2 separate regions of the Homo sapiens genome follow, and region 1 is linked to region 2. Evidence: fine-mapped expression QTL. A gene starts in region 2. The other region holds a variant in brackets. All regions are shown on one strand. Distances are between the middles of the regions.

Region 1 (10,967 bases), 23 kb after region 2:
TCTGTACCCCCTTTTCCCTCCCATGCCTCTCGTCTCCCATGAGGGTAACTCAGGACCAAAGAGCATTGTGACCCTTGGAGAAACTGAGGTTGGCCAGCAGGTCAACCTGACGATGGGTCAGGGCCATCGTCTCATTCTGCGTGGAGCACGGGGACCTTTGTCCGGGCAGGAGTCGTCAGCGGGCCGCCCTGAATCCTGGGAGATGCTTCCCTCCACACTCGCATTTGCCCTGCTGTGGACTCTTGTATGTGAGGCACTCTTCACTTAGGGTGTTGTCTTGTTCTTTTTTGTTTTCTGAGACAGGGTCTCACTCTGTCTACCCAGGCTGGAGTGCAGTGGCACAGTCATAGCCTACTGAAGCCTCAACCTCCCAGGCTCAAGTGATCCTCCTGCCTCAGCCGCCAAGTAGCTGGGACCACAGATGCACACCACCACACTGGCTAATCTTTAAAAAATATTTTGTAGAGGCCAGGCGCAGTGGCTCACACCTGTAATCTCAGCACTTTGGGAGGCCGAGGTGGGTGGATCACTTGAGGTCAGGAGTCTGAGACCAGCCTGGCCAACATGGTGAAACCCCATCTCTACTAAAAATAATTAGCTGGGCGTGGTTGTGCACGCCTATAATCCCAGCCACTCGAGAGGCTGAGGCAGGAGAATTGCTTGAACCTGAGAGGCATAGGTTGCAGTGAGCTGAGATTGCATCACTGCGCTCCAGCCTGGGCAACAGAAAAAAAAAATTTTTTAGAGACATGGTCTCACTATGTTGCCCAGGCTTGTCTCAAACTCCTGAGCTCAAGCAATCTTCCCACTTCCCAAAGTGCTGGGACTATAGGTGTGGGCCACTGCGCCTGGCCCATTTGTCTTGTTCTTGAAGCTTCCAGTCCAGCAGGCCCCACCGCATATCCAGTGCTGCAGAGTGCAGGGTTTGCTCTGCCTGTCAGAGGAGCCAGGGCACAGCAAGGGCACTGCAGTTGGGAGTCCACTGGGCGTCAGTCACTGCCCCCACCCCCACATCAGCCAAGGTCGGTCTCCGCTGGCCTTGCACCACGCACAGAGCACTGGCTCATGCCAAGAAGCAGAATTCAAACTTTGATGTTGCCGCCAACTAGTTTTGTGATCCTGGGTAAGTAAGTGGCTTTGAATCTCCAAATCCTAGAAGAATGACCAGAGAGTCTGCCACGGGCCAGTCCCTGGGCTGCATGTTGTAATGGTATCATTGTGTTTCATGCTCCCTCAAGCCTGTTGCTTTGTTTTAAAGGTGAGGAACTGAGGCTTGCAGTTTTTGTGCAGTCATGGCAAGTTCAGTGGCAAAGCCAACGTCAAGTTTCAGGGCCGCAGAGCCTCTTCTGTACTGCCTGGGTGGCAGTGCTGCAGGGACCCACTCTATCGCTGCTTTCACATTGCTTTTCCCTTTGTAAGCAGCACAACCCAACTGTTGTTTTTTTTTTTTTTTTGAGTAGGAGTTTCACTCTTGTTCCCCTGGCTGGAGTGTAATGGCACGATCTTGGCTCACTGCAACCTCCGCCTCCCAGGTTCAAGCGATTCTCCTGCCTCAGCCTCCTGAGTAGCTGGGATTACAGGCACCCGCCACCACGCCTGGCTAATTTTTGTATTTTTAGTAGAGACAGGGCTTCCCCATGTTGGCCAGGCTGGTCTTGAACTCCTGACCTCAAGTGATCCACCCGCCTCGGCCTCCCAAAGTACTGGGATTACAGGCATGAGCCACTGCACCCAGCCTTTTGTTTTTGAGATGGGGTGTCACTCTGTCACCTAGGCTGGAGTGCAATGGTACAATCACACCTCATAGCAGCCTCCATCTCCCGGGCTTAAGTGATCCTCCCGAGCAGCTGGGATCACAGGCACTCACCACCACAGTTGGCTAATTTTTTGTAGAAGAGGGGGTTTCACCATGTTGCCCAAACTGGTGTCAAACTCCTGGGCTCAAGCAATCTGCCTGCCTCAGCCTCCCAAAGTGCTGGGATTCAGGCATGAGCCACTGCTCCCAGCCTACAACCCAACTTTCTTTTTTTTGAGACAGAGTTCGCTCTGTTGCCTAGGCTGGAGTGGAATGGCGTGATTTCGGCTCACTGCAACCTCTGCCTCCCAGGTTCAAGTGATTCTCCTGCCTCAGCCTCCCGAGTAGCTGAGATTACAGGCGCGTGCCACCACGCCAGGTTAATTTTTGTATTTTTAGTAGTGATAGGGTTTCGCCATGTTGGCCAGGTTGATCTCGAACTCCTGGCCTCAGGTGATCTACCTGCCTTGGCCTCCCAAAGTGCTGGGATTACAGGCGTGAGCCACTGCGCCCGGCCGACACCCAACTTTCAGAGCATCTTTGGTTCCTGGGGTGAGAGAAGCCAGACCCCAGCACCAGTCCTATCCCACAGGGAGCTCGGTGCTGCCACCTCTGCAGCTGCAGAACCCGGCAGGCTCTGGAGAGCTGCCCCCCGGTGGGAGGTAGCAGAATGGAGCCAGCGCACCCCTTTCCCGATGTCTCGAGGCCCTTCTGCTCAAAATTCTTTTGTAGGCACCGGTAACCTGATTCTAAGGTCCCCAGGAGATGGATCACCTGATGACATGAGAATGTCTTGTTTTTGGAAAGCCTGGTCATGCAATTTAGCAGAAGGTTTGCGGTGAGGTGGAAGGCATTTATTTGCTTTGTCTTGCTAACCCTCAAAATCAAAGCCTGTCCCAGCCTGACAGCTTCCAGCAGAAAGTGTCAGAACCAGAGGCCCAGCCAAGGCCCAGGCAGGGCAGGCGGTCCTCCTGGGCCCTGGCATTGTTCTTACACATGGAGGGCATGGCCATCTTCTCTTTCAGGGACAGGCTGGCCTGACATGGAAGGTGAAACAAGGCAGCAGCCCCTGCCTCCAGGAGAACTCTGCAGACTGCAGTGCCGGGGAGCTGAGGGGTCCTGGGAAGGAGCTATGGAGTCCCATCCAGCAGGTTACAGCCACATCCTCTAAATGGGCGCAATTTGTCCTGCCACCTAGAAAAAGTTCACATGTGGACAGTGAGCAGCCAAGGTCTCTTCAGAGGGACCCCAGGCCAGCTGGTCCAGCACAGGCTAAGCAAGGGACCCCCAGAGCACAGGCCTCAAGAGAAGGCCTCAGCAGGCCCACTGCCGCTGTCCAGCTTCCTCGGGCCACACACCCCGTCACATCTGGGTCTGAGAGGCCTTGCGGGAAGACCTCATGGGACGCAAGGACTCCCTGGGCAGAGGGTGGGCCCCTGGTCCTGGAGGCACAGAATCCTCGACCCACACGACTATGTGACCTCTTTATAACTGGGGAAGACTTCGATGATGATGTGTGATCTGGGACTGGCAGGTTATTAATCGAGATACACTTGTTAGGAGGGACAGGGTTCCCCTAAGGCACTTTTAAAGATACTCTGTAAGAACCATTAACAATAAACTTACTGTCAATCATTTCTCTCTATGCAAACGTCATTGGTTAAAGTGCTGATGCCATTTAATTAGATTGTTTACAAATTTAACAGGATGGCTACAAAGAGATCTTATTTTAAAAGCAGCTGATGGTTTGGAAATGAGAGAACTACAGTGGTGAAGAGACCAGGAGGCAGCTCTCAGTGAAACCAACATTGCGGATGCCCTTCGTGAGCCTTCTCAGTCCCAGCAGGAAGCCCACAACACTGGCCTCCCCAGCCTGCCTGCTGACAACACCTAGGCTTACTTTATCTAAAATCAGAGTGTACCAGGTCTGTAGCAGAAAATAATCAACTAAATGTCAGGGACCTATGAGTCATTTAAAACAAAAGAGAAAGTGAAAGCCATTAGGCAAGCTATGTGCTGGGCTGCTAACGTAGCCCCTGCAGGGAGGGGTCAGGAGCGCGCTGCAGTGAGCCTTGGGTCTCGCAGGCCCAGCCCTGCTGCAAGGAGCCAGGGCACCCAGGAAACATCAGCACACACACACACAGGGACCCTCCCTTCATGTCACTTGTTTTGCTGCCCTAAATGGCTTCTTGCACCCTAACCCCTGATCCTGGAAGAAGGCAGAGAAACTGGCCCGTACAGAGACCTGCAATTCTACGCAAGCTTAACACAACTATGAGACAGAAGAGGGGCACGCAGAAGAGGTGGGCAAAAGTGGTCACAACGGCGGGGGATGCTTTGAATACTGGATGGTGTCCAGAGCCGCTCCGATGTCATAGTTCTTGGTCTGCAGGAGCCTGGTGAGCCAGCCGCCTTCATCAGAGAAGCCCATGGACAGCATCTGGGAGAGGGACTCAATCAGCCGCGGGTCAGCCTCTGCCGAAACAGTAAGGAAGCCATGAGGAGTGGTGCTGAGCCCTGTGAGTGACCCGAAACACATACCCTGCTGCCTTGGCCAGCCAGGACCAGGGTCTGCCAGTGTCCGAGCCTGCCCAGAGCTCTCGTCCTCACAGGCCACAGTGGACCTGCTTTCCCTGTAAAGGGCCAAGCAGTCTTTTTCACACTGCTCAACTCTGCCACTGCGACACCAGGCAGCCAGGTGGTGTGTAAGCAGAACCATCAATGGACACTGAAATAGGCATTTCACCTGTCACATCTTTTGATTTTAAAATGTAAGAACAGGCCAGTTAGCCAATTATTACACTCCTCCATGCAAGAGATGATGGGGCATTGAAATAGATTGAAGATGGAGAGAGATGAATGGATACAAGATACATTTTGGAGGTAGAATGAACAGGACTTGGAAATGTATGTGGAGAAGGCAAAGGAGTTAAAGATGATATCTGGAGCAGCACAACTCACAATTGCAAAGATGTGGAACCAACCTAACTGCCCATCAAGCAATGAGTGGATAAAGAAAATGTGGTATATATACACCATGGAATACTACTCAGCCACAAAAAGGAACGAAATAATACCTTTTGCAGCAACTTGGACGGAGCTGGAGGCCATTATCCTAAGTAAAGTAATTCAGGAATGGATACCAAATATCATATGTTCTCACTTATGAGTAGATGCTAAGCTATGATGATGCAAAGACATAAGAATGATATAGCTTTCCCTCTCCCTCTTTCTCCACGGTCTCCCTCTGATGCCGAGCCAAAGCTGGACTGTACTGCTGCCATCTCGGCTCACTGCAACCTCCCTGCCTGATTCTCTTGCCTCAGCCTGCCGAGTGCCTGCGATTGCAGGTGCGCGCCGCCACGACTGACTGGTTTTCGTGTTTTTTTGGTGGAGACGGGGTTTCGCTGTGTTGGCCGGGCTGGTCTCCAGCTCCTAACCACGAGTGATCCGCCAGCCTCGGCCTCCCGAGGTGCCGGGATTGCAGACGGAGTCTGGTTCACTCAGTGCTCAATGGTGCCCAGGCTGGAGTGCAGTGGCGTGATCTCGGCTCGCTACAACCTCCACCTCCCAGCTGCCTGCCTTAGCCTCCCAAAGTGCCGAGATTGCAGCCTCTGCCCGGCCGCCACCCCGTCTGGGAAGTGAGGAGCGTCTCTGCCTGGCCGCCCATCGTCTGGAATGTGAGGAGCCCCTCTGCCTGGCTGCCCAGTCTGGAAAGTGAGGAGCGTCTCTGCCCGGCCACCCATCGTCTGAGATGTGGGGAGCGCCTCTGCCCCGCCGCCCTGTCTGGGATGTGAGGAGCGCCTCTGCCTGGCCGCGACCCCATCCGGGAGGTGAGGAGCGTCTCTGCCCGGCCGCCCCGTCTGAGAAGTGAGGAGACCCTCCGCCCGGCAGCCACCCCGTCCGGGATGTGAGGGGCGCCTCTGCCCGGCCGCCCCTACTGGGAAGTGAGGAGCCCCTCTGCCCGGCCACCACCCCGTCTGGGAGGTGTACCCAACAGCTCATTGAGAACGGGCCATGATGACAATGGCGGCTTTGTGGAATAGAAAGCGGGGAAAGGTGGGGAAAAGATTGAGAAATCGGATGGTTGCCGTGTCTGTGTGGAAAGAAGTAGACATGGGAGACTTTTCATTTTGTTCTGTACTAAGAAAAATTCTTATCCTGTTGATCTGTGACCTTACCCCCAACCCCGTGCTCTCTGAAACATGTGCTGTGTCCACTCAGGGTTAAATGGATTAAGGGCGGTGCAAGATGTGCTTTGTTAAACAGATGCTTGAAGGCAGCATGCTCCTTAAGAGTCATCACCACTCCCTAATCT[C/T]AAGTACCCAGGGACACAAACGCTGCGGAAGGCCGCAGGGTCCTCTGCCTAGGAAAACCAGAGACCTTTGTTCACTTGTTTATCTGCTGACCTTCCCTCCACTATTGTCCTATGACCCTGCCAAATCCCCCTCTGCGAGAAACACCCAAGAATGATCAATAAAAATAAATAAATAAATAAACAAAAATAAGAACTACTCTTGGCCCATAGGCCATAGCTCGCCATCCCCTGCCCTAAGGCAGAGAAGACACACAGCGGCGGCCCACAGCAGGTTGTGCACACGGACCTTGGTTTACACACGGCTGCCATGTGACAATGAGGAGTTTCTGTCAGCTGTCCCCACCCCCCACCCCCCCACTGCTGCCTGCCACACCATCCACTTCAACGGTGGCTTCTGCCTGGCTCCTACAGGGATCTTGGCTATGACCCCCCCCCCTCTCAGACCAGCACTCCCTGAGGCGGCACTTGAGTGTGAGTAGTAGGGACACACCCAGTGCTGCCCCCTCTCTGTGTCACACCTGCCTTAATTCCTGGTCTGCATGTTAAGTTTTAGAAACTCCTACAATTAATATTCCTGGCTCTGGAGTTTGCCTAAAGAAAAACATTTTCAGAACTGCATTAGCAGAGCTTACTCGCTATTGCTCAGGGTACACATAATAGGACAAAACCAACTCCTAACCTCCCACACCTACAGACAGCCCTGCAGTGGAGAACATCTCATCCTTCTGTTTGTGTCGCTGAAATCAGAGGAGGGCAGGATGCTCTAAAGGGAAAGGTAGGAATATGTACAAAACCTCTTGGTTCACTTGCCTGGCGGGAGATGTGGGTACAAGGCAGCTTCCTTCAGCCCTGTGGGTCCCTCCTGGGAGGGGTCCAGAGAGCTTGGCCCTTCGGATTCTGGCATCTGTAGGGACTGGAGTTCACCTGTAGACGGGTCCACTTCTTTTGAAGACAGATGGGTCCAGTCATCATCTCCTCCTGAACAGTTATCCGACTCCATCTGTTCCTGGAACAAAACTCACCATGAGCACACAGGAGACACGCGCAACAGGCCAAGCCTGACCATGGCCCTGGCTCCTGGCAGACAGTCGGGGAGCACGCATGCACACGTGCAGTTAAGGCTGCAGGGGTCTAGGGGGAACAGTGGCCACTCACAAAGACCAAGTAACTACAAAGTTCTAGCAGGTTCCCAGCGTGACTTTAATGGCACAGACATCACTGCAGCAGCAGCAGCTCCCTCGGGTTTGTAAGTGGGGCTGCAGAGGTGCTGAGGATGAGGCGGAGGTGCAGGCCACAGATCACTAGGCTGGCCGTGGTCCCAGGTGGCGGGAGGGGCACAGGCTTGCCTCAGGGCGCCCCTCGGACTCCAAGGCGATCTTCCTCATCTGCTCCGCCAGAGACTGCGTGGCGCCCTCAACATTCCCACCCGGCTTGCTGGGGTCAGAGCAGCAGCTGCTTGGCTGTGAGCTGCTCTTCTCCTCTGTGCTGGAACTCTCTGGAGAGACGGGGGTCAGGCGGCTTCTTTTCCCTCCGTGCTCCACATCGATATCAACTTCAATGCCTAGAGGCGGAGGAGGAAAGAGCAAGCCGTGAAGTTCCCCCAAGGATGCACCTGCAAGCAGGAGCTTGGCCTGTGGAGACTACAGACTCACGAAGATCTCAACGTTCAGTCCCCACAAGCAGCTAAGTGTCTGGATGGTGGCACTCAGCGTGTGGATGCAGGTGCTAGGTTCTACCCAGCTCGACCCCGCAATCACACAGCCAGTATGGGACCAGACGATACAAACCCATGAGTCAGAGGCTTCTCCCCATATCCCAGCTACAAATCTCTGTGGCTTCTGGAAACATTCTTGGTGGGCCCATGATACTGGACCTTTCTCTTTCTCCAATTCAGTAAAACATTAACCTCAGCTAGCATCTAAAGTCAGCTTCTGAGCCAGAAAGTCGAAAGAGACCTTTTTCCTAACCATGCAGGACACGGGCCACACGGCAGGTGGGGCCAGGCCCTAAGTACAGGGAGAGCCAATACCACATGTGGCAGGCGCTTCCAGCCACAGTGATGGAAGGCCATGTGCCTCCTGACACCTGCACACAGAGGCTTTGTGCGACGACACACACGCACACCTCAACGCCGGAGCTCTGCTCTGGGAGGTGGATGGGCCGTGCAGGCGCTGCGTAGGGCCCAACGCTGGCCCCACAGGGAACCTGCACACCTCCAGGCTCACGTGACTCACCAGGGACAGAGGGGAGAATCACCTGCACTATTTTTGAAATTAAATGTGTCAAAAGTCTCCACACCCACAGCTTAGAGTCACCAGTTGCCAAAGGCTGTGGTGCACACTCCCTGCCCCCATCCCACTCCCCAAACTCTCCCTGTGCCCTTTCAGCTCACGCTGCTCTTGCCTGCTGCTGGAGTTCACATCTGCGCACTTCCTACTCTGGACCAGTACCTGCCTCTCCTTCCACTACCCTTTCCAAGACGCAATTTTTTGTTAAAAGAACATTCAGTAGGCCGAGCGCAGTGGCTCACGCCTGTAATCCCAGCACTTTGGGAGGCCGAGGCGGGCGGATCACGAGATCAGGAGATCGAGACTACCCTGGCTAATATGGTGAAACCCCGTCTCTACTAAAAATACAAAAAATCAGCTGGGCGTGGTGGCAATCGCCTGTAGTCTCAGTTACTCGGGAGGCCGAGGCAGAAGAATCGCTTGAACCTGGGAGGCGGAGGTTGCAGTGAGCCAAGTTGGCGCCACTGCACTCCAGCCTGGTGACAGAGCAAGACTCCATCTCAAAAAAAAAAAAGAACATTCAATGTTTCAGCTAGGACCTCTATCTAAATGTTCTTTGCTGGGTCAAGTAGCAGACTATTTCTTTGTATCGCTTTTTGTTTTCCTACCACTGATAATGGCTTCTCTTTTCCTTTGTTTTGTAGACAGAGTCTCGCTCTGTTGCCCAGGCTGGAGCGCAGTGCCGCAATCTCTCGGCTCACTGCAGCCTCTGCCCACCAGGTTCAAGTGATTCTCCTGCCTCAGCCTCCCGAGTAGCTGGGACTATAGGCACGTGCCACCACGCCCAGCTAATTTTTATATTTTTAGTAGAGACGGGGTTTCACCATGTTGGCCAGGCTGGTCTTGAACTCCTGACCTCAGGTGATCTGCCTGCCTTGGCCTCCCAAAGTGCTTGGATTACAGGCATGAGCCACTGCACCCAGCCTGCCTTCTCTTTGCATTTGCTAACTTTCCCTATGTTCTCCCACAGCATCTCCATAGTTTTCTACAAGGGTGAAGTGGATCAGAGACCCCACTGGTTCTGGTGTTTTCCATAGAGAGTGCCGCTTGCTGTGCAGCCTCCTGTTCCAGCCAGGACTGGCAGCTCTCTGGGCAGAGGCTGCGCTGTGATGCTGTGACCCCCTTTACGTTCACCCTCTGTCCTGTTAGGTCCCCCGTTTCCTAATACCTCTGTGCTTCATTTTGGGTTTCTCTCTTCATGTGGTTCAAACCAAGGTTAAAATAATTAAGACTGTATACCAGAAAGTAACTTTGTTCTGCCCTGATACTTGATCGTTTTAGCTGGGTATAGAATTCTAGGCTGGACCAGGCACAGTGACTCATGCATGTAATCCTAACACTTTGGGAGAACAACATGAGAAATCTCTTGAGCCCAGGAGTTCAAAATCGGCCTGGGCAGCATGGCAAGACCCCATCTCTACAAAAAAATTTTAAAATAGCTGGGCACGGGGCTGGGCACAGTGGCTCATGCCTGTAATCCCAGCACTTTGGGAGACGAAGGCAGGTAGATCATGAGGTCAGGAGTTCAAGACCAGCCTGGCCAAGATGGTGAAACCCCATCTCTACTAAAAATATAAAAATTAGCCAGGCATGGTGGCGGGTGCCTGTAATCCCAGCTACTCGGGAGGCTGAGGCAGAAAATTGCTTGAACCCAGGAGGTGGAAACTGCAGTGAGCTGAGATCACGCCGCTGCACTCCAGCCTGGGCGACAGCGAGACTCTGACTCGGGGGTGGGGAAAGAAAAAGAAAAAAAAAAATATCTAGGCACAGTGGCACATGCCTGTAGTCCCAGCTACTGGGGAGGCTGAAGCAGAAGGATCACTTGAGCCCACGAGATGAAGACAACTGTACCACTGCTCTCCAGCCCAGATGACAGTGAGACCCGGTTTCAAAAACAAAAGAATTCTAGGCCGAAAAGCCTTTTTAACTGATTTCTGGAGTCATCAGTTGTTCCATTGTCTCCTAGCTGTTCATGTTTGTTTGCTCTTTGTATTCCCAAGTATTTACAATAACCTAGAGTTTTAGAAGCCCCTCTTTCTTTATCCTCAGGGTTCTGACACTTGACAATGATAAGCTTTGCTGTGGGGTCTTTCTCAGTCATTGTCAGGGCCGCTTTCAATCTAGAAGATAATGGCCTCATTGCCAAGAAACTATCTTGCATTTTTGTTTTTTGTTTTGTTTTGTTTTGTTTTGTTTGAGACAAGGTCTGTTTCTGTCTCCCAGGATGGAGTGCAGTGGTACAATCCAGGCTCGTTGCACCCTCTGCCTTCCAGGCTCAAGCCATCCCCAACCTCAGCCTCCCACGTAGCTGGGGCCATAAGTACACAACTCCATGCCTGGCTAATTTTCATAGTGTTTGTAGACACGGGAAGTGGGGGATGGTGTCTCCCTATGTTGCCAAGGCTGGTCTCAAACTCGTGAGCTCAAGTCATCTGCCTGCCTTGGTCTCCCAAAGTGTTGGGATTACAGGCATGAGCCACCATGCCTGGTGCCAAGAAACTATCTTGCATTCTATGTTCATTTCCTCCTTTCAGTTTTCTATTCTTTCTGGAATTCCTACTCATCC
Region 2 (10,607 bases):
CACCGCCAGTGACCATGAGCAGCCTGGAGTTTCCGGCTGATGCCTGCAGCTGTGAGGCCTGGCCCAAGGTGTCATCAGTGGGGCTGGCCTCATCTCCTCCTGCCTTTCCTCCCTTATCAGTTTCTCTTTAAAGGTGTGCCCCTCCTGCTCTCCCAGGAGCAGTGAGTTGTGAGTGGAAAGAAGGCTGGTGCAGACCCAGCTGCCTTAGACAGATTCCCTGGGCCTGCATCTCCTGGCGCCGGCTGCTTCTGGGCCCAGGAAGAGGCTGTGGCTCCCACCTTCCTTACACCTGGTGGGAGCCCGCCTCGCACCAGCTGCACCTGCCTAGCATTACAGGCTCTCAGATCTGCCCTTGCTTGCCTCATACCTCTGTGCTCCACACTGCGGCCAGGCCAGCTGAGTCCCTCCATCCGTGGATGCTTTCCTGCAGCTATGTGGTATGGGGGTCATTCCTGCCTCTTGGCACCAGGTTGGGGGGCATGTGCTTGTTGGGCACCAAAGTGATGGAACCCTCAGGTGCTCTCCGGGAGCCTGAACCTCCTGACTGAGGAACATGGGCAGAACATGTTTATTGCACAGAGTGGGCGCTGCGCACAGGCGTGGCTGTACACGTGCTCTCAGCTCATCATCCTTTCCAGTAACTTTAAAAAAACATCCCTCAGGTCCTGATATATTTCCTTGGATTCATTTCACTTGGCTAGAAATTACACTGTGCTCAATGCCTTAATAAATCCCTGAAAGAAATAAAAACCACTGTGTGCAATGCCTTGCTGTGGCCCCCAACCACTGCTTAGGCCTCCCAACTTCTCCCCAGGCCAAGTATGGGGCCCTGGCTGTGTTCTGGAAGTTCAAGACACTTAGTCCTCCACAGTGGGTGGAAGAGTGCAAGGTCTGCCAGGTCAGATGGAGACGCAGAACCTGCTGGTGCAAGCTGGGCAGGTCCTGACCAACCTGCATCAGGGGATGCCCTGAGCTCCACAGGTCTTCATGGGCAGGGGTTGTGGGTCCTGGTGAAGGAAGTGCATCCTCAGGCCTGGGCTGTAGCAAGCTGTCTGCCCTTGGGTTCAAGAACCAGACTGTGGAGCCAAAGGTGACCGCAGGGGGCCCCAGGGCTGGAGCCACAAGGATACCCTCACTTTGCATGAGGAGCTGAAACTGACCAGTGTCCAGTGTTAGCCCCCACATGGGGCTGCTCTTGCTTCTACTAAAAGATACAGCAGTTACCCCCTTATCCACAGGGGATACAGTGGATATCTAAAACCAGACCCCCAGTGGATGTCTAAAACCACAGATAATAACAAACCTTATACATACTGTTTTTTCCTATGCATACATACCTGTGATTAAGTTTATGAATTAGGCACCTTAAGAGATTGACAACAATAACTAATAATAAAATGTAACGGTTATACTGTAATGAAAGTTGTAAATGTGGTCTGTCTCACAATATCTTCTTGTACTGTACTCATCTCTTTTCCAGGTGGCTGTTGACTCTGGGTAACTAAAGCTGCAGAAGGTGAAACTCAGGTACTATTGTATATCTCTGTGGCTGCTGTTTTTGTTTTAATTAAGTAGCTTTGTTTTTTTGTTTTTTTGTTTTTTTGTTTTTTGAGACCAAGTCTTGCTCTGTTGCCCAGCATGGAGTGCAGTGGCGTGATCTCAGCTCACTGCAACCTCTGCCTCCTGGGTTCAAGCAATTCTTCTGCCTCAGCCTCCCAAGCAGCTGGGACTACAGGCGTGCACCACCACGCCCAGCTAATTTTTCTATTTTTACTAGAGATGGGGTTTCACCATATTGGCCAGGCTGGTCTCAAACTCCTGACCTCGTGATCCACCCGCCTCGGCCTCCCAACATGCTGGGATTACAGGCGTGAGCCACCATGCCCGGTCTGCTTGTTTGTTTGTTTTAGAGACAGACTGGAGTGCTGTGGCATGACCATAGCTCATGGCAGCCTCAAACTCTTGGCCTGAAGTAATCCTCCTGCCCCAGCCTCCCTAGTAGCTGGGACTACAGGCATGAACCAGCATGCCTGGCTTCAATTTCCTTTCTAGTATTTACACAAAGTACCATAAAATAATTTCAAATGATTTATACCAAAAAGACCATTGTTGGCCTTAATATAATTAAGATATAATAACCCCACATATTTGGCAATTTTAAGTCTTACACTGATTATATTCAATTAGATTTGAATAACTTGGAATTTGGATAAATGGCTTTTTATTTCCCATTTTTTGTCTTTACAGAGGTAAGATAAATGTTTTTAATATATGGAAGTATAAGCTTGTGAATACACCAAAGAAATTAACCAAAGAATAGGAAAGAGGAATCTGGCCTATTCACGTGATACAATGTACGAAAATGTACAATAGTACTTTAATCCATAAATCATTCAACCTGGGAAGATAACTCAAAATGTTTAACAACCAGAACAGTAACATTAAATAATATATAGATAATACAAATAAAAAATTTAAATTTTATAAGTAAACATGAATATTTTAAAACTGCTTACCAAGTAATATAAGTTGCATCAAACCACTCATCAAATCATTCTTATAATTTCCAAGAAAAAAAACTATATACATGAATTTTTAAAGGATTACCGGTTCATTGCCAAAAGGAGAAAAATATACAGAAAAGTAGAACAATTTTTCCTAGTGCTACAGATTACTCAGTATTTTGGTGTTTATTCTGTATTTTTTTTCAGAGTTTAACTGATGTCATATATGAAATTTTTATTCTACTCCTTTCATTAAGCATAAAACATTTTTTGCAGATGCTTTCTGTTCTCAGCCACAGTAGCTCAAACGTAGAAATGAAGGAAAACCACCCAAATGAGAAACAGTATTCAGAGCTTGCTACAGCAAGGGAGTCAGCAACATCCCCGGTGTGGGTAGGCGCAAGGACGCAGGGGGTGGAAAACGGGGAAGGCTCCAGGTGGTTCTGACCGCAGGCTGTTGGAAACTGGAGGTGAGCTAACAAGAAGCAGGATGTTTTCTGTGACTGGTTTGGGGAGCGCTTTCTTGGGTTGGTTCTGACATGGGGAGGGTGGTACAAAAAATAGAGGAGCAAGCAGTCCTGACCACGTCCTTCCCAAGCAGCCGACTGCCCGGTTACTGCAGAGGCTGCAGTCAGTTTATTGTCATTCGTTATCTGACCATTGTCTATTGGCATATTGTCTCTCAATTTTTTTTTCTAACTACTTACTGTACAAAAGTTGGAAAAATTTAAAAATTAGCATTACCTACGACCTTAGCCACACACACACACACACACGCCAGAAAATAATGCCGGTGTCACAGAAGTCAAACGATGTACTGTAATTCTGTAACCTTGCCTCTCCACAGCACGTTGTCACTTCAAACTCAGGTTCTTGCTGATGGAACTGCCTAAGAGTCCGTGCCGTTCTTCAGAACACTGATTTCCATTTCTTCCTAGTATTCTTCAGGGAACACTAGGGAATGAATAATAAATCACCTAGGTGAAGGGATTCCTTTCTTGGGGTAGCAGTATTGCCAGGTTGCTTTCCACGGTTTTGCACTTGACCGTTCTCCCAGCACCCTGTCAGAGGGGTAGCCCTCCCTGCACCCTTGTCAGGATTGGGTGTTTTCTTCAACGGGATGGTTTCTGCTGTTAAAAGCGAGTGTCGGCCGGGTGCAGTGGCTCACGTCTGTAATCCCAGTACTTTGGGAAGCCGAGGCGGGTGGATCACCTGAGGTCAGGAGTTCGAGACCAGCCTGGCCAACATGGAGAAACACCGTCTCTACTAAAAATACAAAAATTAGCTGGGCGTGGTGGCGGGCATCCGTAATCCCAGCTACTGGAGAGGCTGAGGCAGGAGAATCACGCCACTGCACTCCAGCCTGGGCGACTGAGCGAGACTGTCTCCAAAAACAAAAAACAAAAAAAAAACACCTCGCTTTTTTGGTGATAGTCACTGTGTAAAAGTTGGAAAAAAAATTAAAATTACAACCCTAGACACCGAGGGTTGTACGGTGGGAGGTAATTTTAATATTTTTTGTATTTTATTTTCCAACGAGGTTACAACCCTAAGCCACACAGGGTTGCGGCGTGAGCGTCGGGCTGCGGGGGCGCCTCCACCCTCCGTAGGGTGGGCCTGGGACGCTCCCGGGGCTGCAGGGGGACCGGCTTCGCGCTCGGCGGCCGCGCGCCTCCGCCGCCCTCTCCGGGAAGCGTGGGTGTGGTGAGCCCCTCCGTCTCCCCGTATTCCACCCCGGGCTCCGGTTCAAAGGCTAACTGTTCGCTGCTACCTAAAAGCACGGCAGCGCAGGCCTGGCAGGGCGGCCCCTCAGCCCCGCTCCGCGTTGTGTCCAAGGACTGGTCAGCGGAGGCCCTGTCGTCTCAATTCCAGTCTCCCCAGGGCCGGAACCAGTGCCTTAGGAAGATGCGGGCACGGCCCTGGTCAGACGACGAGTCGGCTACCAGGAATCCCGCACCCAGGACTCTTTCCGAGGTCGGAGGGGCGCAGATGACCAGCGAGAGGCGCGGCAGGCTAGAGGGATCCCAGTGCGCAGGGGCGGGGCCGCGGCGGCCGGAGCGAAGAGTATAAGCGCATGCGAGACGGCGTAGGGGACTAGAGGGTTCGGAGCGCGTGCGTGGGGCGGGGCCGCGGCGGGACAAATGCAGAGCGCACGCGCTTGGCTGCCTGGCGACTGCACAAGCAGGGATGGCGTCGCTTCAGCGTTCTCGGGTGCTACGCTGCTGCAGCTGCCGCCTCTTCCAGGCGCACCAGGTCTGGCGGGTGCCAGCCCCCTCCTCCTCCTCCGGCGCGGGGACAGCGGACGGGGAGTGGCGGGGCTGTGGGTGTTGTCTCGAATGGCTCCGGGATGCACCGGGCCCGAAGGAGTGCAGGGACCGCTGAGGGCGGGTCTCATTGGGGTCGCCCCCGCATAACGTTCTGAGCTTTTTGTTTGGTTCTTGTACAAACCAGAGGTAATGGTTCTGCGGAGGTGGCCTCTTGTGAATTGTAGCAGGTAGTGGGAGAATCCGGTTGAGTATAGCATCCTTTACGCAGAGCCTACCCCACGAAGTAGCGCTGTCGCAGTTTCAGTGAGAGGGGGAGGACGGTTCTTAGAGACCGAGCGCGCCGCGGCGGCGTCCCTGCTCCACACCTGGGCGCCCTCTCCGTCGCCCCGCGCCTCTGCCGCCGTCCGTTTCCGCGGGGCCAGGGACTTGATATGGCTGTTCGCCGACGCATAAACCACGGGCCCCGGAGTCTTAAAGACAGATAATCTGTGTTTCTAGGACATATTTGCCTCCCTAACTTTCAGCGTGCCAGATAGAGAATGCCACTTAACCTTTTCCGGATCGCACCTGTCTCCCTGCTTGATATCACTTAACACTGCAGTCACCGTATCTGCTTCTGATAGTCCCTCCCTCCTAATTATTGGTAATCTGCTATGCCCTGAGAAAGAATAGCATCAGACTTCTTCTTCTTTTTTTTTTTTTTTTGAGACGGAGTTTCGCTCTTGTTGCCCAGGCTGGAGTGCAATGGCGCGATCTCGGCTCACCGCAACCTCCGCCTCCCAGGTTCAAGCAATTCTCCTGCCTCAGCCTCCCGAGTAGCTGGATTACAGGCATGCGCCACCATGCCCAGCTAATTTTGTGTTTTTAATAGAGACAGGGTTTCTCCATGTTGGTCAGGCCGGTCTCGAACTCCTGACCTCAGGTGACCCGCCTGCCTCGGCCTCCCAAAGTGCTGGGATTACAGGCGAGAGCCATTGTGCCCGGCGTGGATCAGACTTGTTTAAGAGGTATGTTAAAAAGTCAGCAAGATGCTGAGTATGTGTCTGTAAGCTTGCATTTAATGCTAAGCGTTTGTAAGGGCCATTTTAAGGGCTCAGAAACTTTTTACTTATTTTCTTTCGGGAGCTGGGTCCTAAGAGTTGCAAATAAAGGGAGATCATTTGCATTTTTAAATTATTCCACGTCTAATGTTTCATGCTGTTTTTTAAAAACAAATTTTCCGTTTATTTTTATTTCCTTTTTTTGTTTTTGAGACAGAGTCTCACGTCTCACTCTGTCGCCAGGCTGGAGTGCAGTAGCGTGATCTCGGCTCACTGCAACCTCCGCCTCCTGGGTTCAAGCGATTCTCCTGCTTCAGCCTCCCGAATAGCTTGGATTACAGGCGCGCGCCACCAAGCCCAGTTAATTTTTGTATTTTTAGTAGAGACGGGGTTTCACCATGTTGACCAGGAAGGTCTCCATCTCTTGACCTCGTGATCTGCCCGCCTCGGCCTCCGAAAGTGCTGGGATTACAGTGCTGGTGTTACGGGTGTGAGCCACTGCGCCCGGCCTCTATTTCCTTGTTTGTTTTCCTGTTTCACTCTTCCATGTTCACCAGTGTTATTTATTTATTTATTTACTTATTTATTTTGAGACAAGGTCTCGCTTTGTCGCCCAGATTGGAGTGCAGTGGTAACAATCACAGCTCGCTGCAACCTGCATCTCCCGGGCTCAGCTGATCCACCTCAGCCTCCCACGTAGCTGGTACTACAGGTGTGGGCCACCATCCCCAGCTAATTTTTATATTTTTTGTAGGAATGAGGTTTCGGCCGTGTTGCCCAGGCTGGTCTGGAACTCCTGGGCTCAAGTGTTCTTCCCGCCTTAGCTCCCAAAGTGCCGGGACTACGGGTGTGAGCCAGCGCCCCTGACCCTCGTGGTCATTTTCAACCTTATGAAATGTGAGTTGCTTGGCCCCGGTGGCTCACGCCCATAATCTCAGCACTTTGGGAAGCCCACTAGGGCAGATCACTTGAGCTCAGAAGTTCCAGAGCAGCCTGGGCAACGTAGCGAGACCTTGTCTCTACTAAAATTCAAAATAAAATAGCTAGATGTAGTGGCGCGCATCTGTAGTCCTAGCTACTCAGGGTCGCTGAGGCAGGAGAATCGCTTCAGTCCAGGAGGTAGAGGTTGCAGTGAGCCGTGTTCACACCACTGCACTCCAGCCTGGGCGACAGCCAGACCCTGTCTCAAAAACAAAGAAAAATTACTTGAAACCAAAGAGGACGGCAAGTCGGCTATGTACTACTTTAATTTTAATTGCAAGTCGGCTGTGTACTACTTTAACACGTTTAACTTCAACAACCTTTGACTTAGGCATCATTCCCATCTTAGAGACATGAGAATTCCGAAATACACGGGAATCAAGTGGTTTCTCCATCTAGGGAGTGGCAGAACCATACTATCTCAGCAGTTCCCACAATTAATTCCTTTACCAGGTTCTGTGAGTCCTAAACTTTTAAAAAGGCTTTTCTTGGCCGGGTGCGGTGGCTCACACCTGTAATCCCAGCACTTTGGGAGGCCGAGGGGGGCAGATCATGAGGTCAGGAGTTCGAGACCAGCCTGGGCAATGTTGTGAAACCCCGTCTCTACTAAAAATACAAAAAATACAGGTCGTGGTGGCGGGCACCTGTAATCGCAGCTACTTGGGAGGCTGAGGCAGGAGAATCACTTGAATCCAGGAGGCAGAGGTTGCAGTGAGCCGAGATCACGCCACAGTGCTCCAGCCTGGGCAACAGAGCCAGACTCTGTCTCAAAAAAAAAAAAAAAAAAACAACTTTTCTTACTTGTTTATATACTCATAGAAAATCCACAGTTTTATTGGTGTTTTAAGGTAGAAGCTGAGAAGTAAAATTGCTAAGTCATTACCCAGTTCAATTTTTGGTAGGTGCTCATTGTCCTCCTTAGAATCCTTTTGGATACTTCCCCCGAAAACCTCATGATTTTGTATTAGGATCATATTAATCGTATTAATGTTAATGGATCAACCTAGACATCTTTGTGGTGTTAAACATGATCCATTACGTTTCTTCAAGTAACCTTGGTATCCCTTGGTAACATTTTATTTGTTGCTGTTATAAATGGACTCTTTATCAATTATGTGTTCTAATTAGATGTCTGCTCATATAAAAGCTATATTAATTTTTGAAGGTATCTTAATTTTGTACCTAACCACTGTATTAGACTATCTGGTTTTAGTGGCTTCTCATTTCATTATGTTGGTTTTCGGATAAAAAATTATGTCAGGTAGCAGCCGGGCTGGTGGTTCATGCCTTTAATCCCAGCACTTTGGGTGGGTCACTTGAGGTCAGGAGTTCGAGACCAGCCTGACCAACATGATGAAACCCTGTCTCTGCTAAAACCACAAAGTTAGCCGGGCGTGGTGGCACGTGCCTGTAATCCCAGCTACTTGGGAGACTGAGGCAGGAGAATCTCTTGAACCTGGGAGGTGGAGGTTGCACTAAGCCGAGATCTCACCATTGCACTCCAGCCTGGGCAATAAGAGCGAAACTCCGTCTCAAAAAAATTAAAATTAAAATTAAAATTAAAAAATTGGCTTTTCTTTGGGAGGCCGAGGTCTGCAGATCATTTGAGGTCAGGAGTTATTTCAGGTATTATAATTATGTCTATAAATAATGATAGGGTTTTCCGCTCCTTTATAATTTTTATACATCTTACAACTTTCTTCTAATTCCATTGGCTAGTACATCCAGAAAAAAATGGTAAATAATAGCGGGCAACCCTGGCTTGTTCTTGACTTCCATGTGGAATGCTGGTAAAGATTCTCCAGCATTAGAGTGGGTTTTAGGCATTTTATATGTTAAGAGAGAACACATCTAGTCAGGTTTAACAAGAATTGAAAATAAATGTTACGGAATTTTTTTTAGACCCAAGTTTAACAAGAATTTAAATATTATGGAATTTTTTTTACAGCTTCAATTTGAGTCTTACGGAGTGTTTTTGTTTTGTTTGGATTTGGTTTTGCGAGACAGGAATATTATGGAATTTTTTTTTACAGCTTCAATTTGGGTCTTTCAGAGTGGTTTTGTTTTGTTTGGATTTGGTTTTGTGAGACAGCCTCTTGCCATGCTACCCGGGCTGGCCTCAAACTCCTGGGCTCGAGTAGTCTTGGCCTCCCTCGTCGCTGAGACTACAGGCTCAAGCCACTGTGCCCAGCCCAATTTGATTGTGTTTCATACAGATAGCCAGTTTTCCCAGCACCAACCCGGACTTGTTAAATAGTCTGTTCTTTTCTCACTTTTAAAGTACCACCTTTATGATTATGATACGCTAAATGTTTACACATGCTTTGGTTTGTTTCTGGACTCCTTCCATCAGTTTTTAAAATTATTTCAGGCCAGATCCAGCCCTGGTGGCTCACGCCTGTAATCCCAGCACTTTGGGAGGCCGAGGCGGGTGGATCACCAGGTCAGGAGATCGAGACCATCCTGGCCAACACGGTGAAACCCCGTCTCTACTAAAAATACAAAAAATTAGCCAGGCGTGGTGGCGGGCACCTGTAGTCCCAGCTACTCGGGAGGCTGACACAGGAGAATGGCGTGAACCCGGGAGGGGGAGCTTGCAGTGAGCCGAGATTGCGCCGCTGCACTCCAGCCTGGGCAGCAGAGCCAGACTCTGTCTCAAAAAAAAAAAAAAAAAAATTATTTCAGGCCAGGCATGGTGGCTCACACCTGTAATCCCAGCACTGTGGGAGGCCAAGGCAGGTGGATCACTTGAGGTCAGGAGTTTGAGAACAGCCTGGTCAACATGGTGAAACCCCATCTCTACTAAAATACAAAAATTAGCTGGGCGTGGTGGTACACACCTGTAATCCCAGCTACTTGGGATTTAAAAAAAAAAAATTTCAGATCCAATTCCATTTGTTTTTTGTTTGTTTGTTTGTTTTTTTGAGATGGAGTCTCACCCTGTCGTGTAGGCTGGAGTGCAGTGGTGCAATCTTGGCTCACTGCAACCTCCACCTCCCAGGTTTAAGCGATTCTCCTGTCTCAGCCTCCTGAGTAGCTGGGATTACAGGTGCCCGCCACCATGCCTGGCTAATTTTTGTATTTTTAGTAGAGACTGGGTTTCACCATATTGGTCAGGCTGGTCTCGAACTCCTGACCTTGTGATCTGCCCGCCTCGGCCTCCCAAAGGGGGATTACAGGCATGAGCCACCGAGTCCAGCCCAATTCCATTTTGTTTTAAATAATTATCTGAGTTGTATTTCTGAAATTTCATTGCAGGTAAAAAAGAGTGTCAAGTGGACATGCAAAGCTTGTGGAGAGAAGCAGTCCTTTTTGCAGGTGAGTCCTACAAAACAGAAAGCAAGTGGGGCGCAGGCCTGCAGCGAGCCCTTCCAGGGAGTCCCAGCATGCCACAGCTGGGATCATCCTCTCTCAAACAGAGTTCCCCAGACACGGAGCTCCTGCTTCCGAGCTTCCTGTTCCTTCAGGAAGTGAAATGGATGGAGCAGAATCTGGAAAGGTACTGCCATTTGATTCTTCATTCAGCAAGTATTTCTTGAGTACTTTCTGTGTGCCAAGCACAAGGGGAACAGTGGAAAGTAAGCCCATTGTCATTCTTGCCCTCACAGATGCACTTGTGTGGAAGGGGAAGAGAAACTAATGCACACATGCATCTGCATAATTTAAAACTCGGCTGAGCACAAGGAAAGGAAAGCACTGGGGACTGTGAGAAGATGACAGAGGAATCAGGGCAGCCGGGGAAGGGCAGAGGCCGTTGGTGGAGGTGGAGGTGTGGGATAGTGGGCTCAGGAAGTGGAGGCAGGCAGGGGCAGGCT

Alleles and levels. Positions count from the first base shown, and alleles are read on the strand shown. Sizes are in standard deviations (SD) of each study's normalised expression.
In carriers of allele T in region 1, the expression in testis of the gene that starts at base 4,671 in region 2 tends to be lower than with C alone (moderate effect, 0.46 SD a copy in GTEx).

Evidence for each region. PIP is the estimated chance that this variant, and not a neighbour inherited with it, causes the effect.
Region 1: its variant is fine-mapped to the expression of MRNIP in testis (GTEx, PIP above 0.99).

The regions. Positions count from the first base shown.
Region 1 is chr5:179,829,739-179,840,705 of GRCh38, reverse strand. It overlaps SQSTM1 (sequestosome 1), which reads right to left. Exons shown (of 8, transcript NM_003900.5): 6 at 7,460-7,674; 7 at 6,924-7,119; 8 at 2,628-4,270. The coding sequence ends at 4,113. It overlaps MRNIP (MRN complex interacting protein), which reads left to right. Exons shown (of 7, transcript NM_016175.4): 7 at 2,821-3,430. The coding sequence ends at 3,315. Among named protein-coding and RNA genes, the nearest start is that of SQSTM1, 14 kb to the right of the region's middle. RefSeq lists enhancers at 3,712-3,861, 3,643-3,937. The variant C/T (reference allele first, on the strand shown) is at 6,114.
Region 2 is chr5:179,852,881-179,863,487 of GRCh38, reverse strand. It overlaps MRNIP (MRN complex interacting protein), which reads left to right and starts at 4,671. Exons shown (of 7, transcript NM_016175.4): 1 at 4,671-4,757; 2 at 10,051-10,110. The coding sequence starts at 4,692. TBC1D9B (TBC1 domain family member 9B) reads left to right here. Exons shown (of 21, transcript NM_015043.4): 21 at 1-1,417. The coding sequence ends at 40. It overlaps MRNIP-DT (MRNIP divergent transcript), which reads right to left and starts at 4,485. Exons shown (of 2, transcript NR_134283.1): 1 at 4,276-4,485; 2 at 2,205-3,458. RefSeq lists silencers at 4,110-4,239, 5,140-5,249 and an enhancer at 4,310-4,509.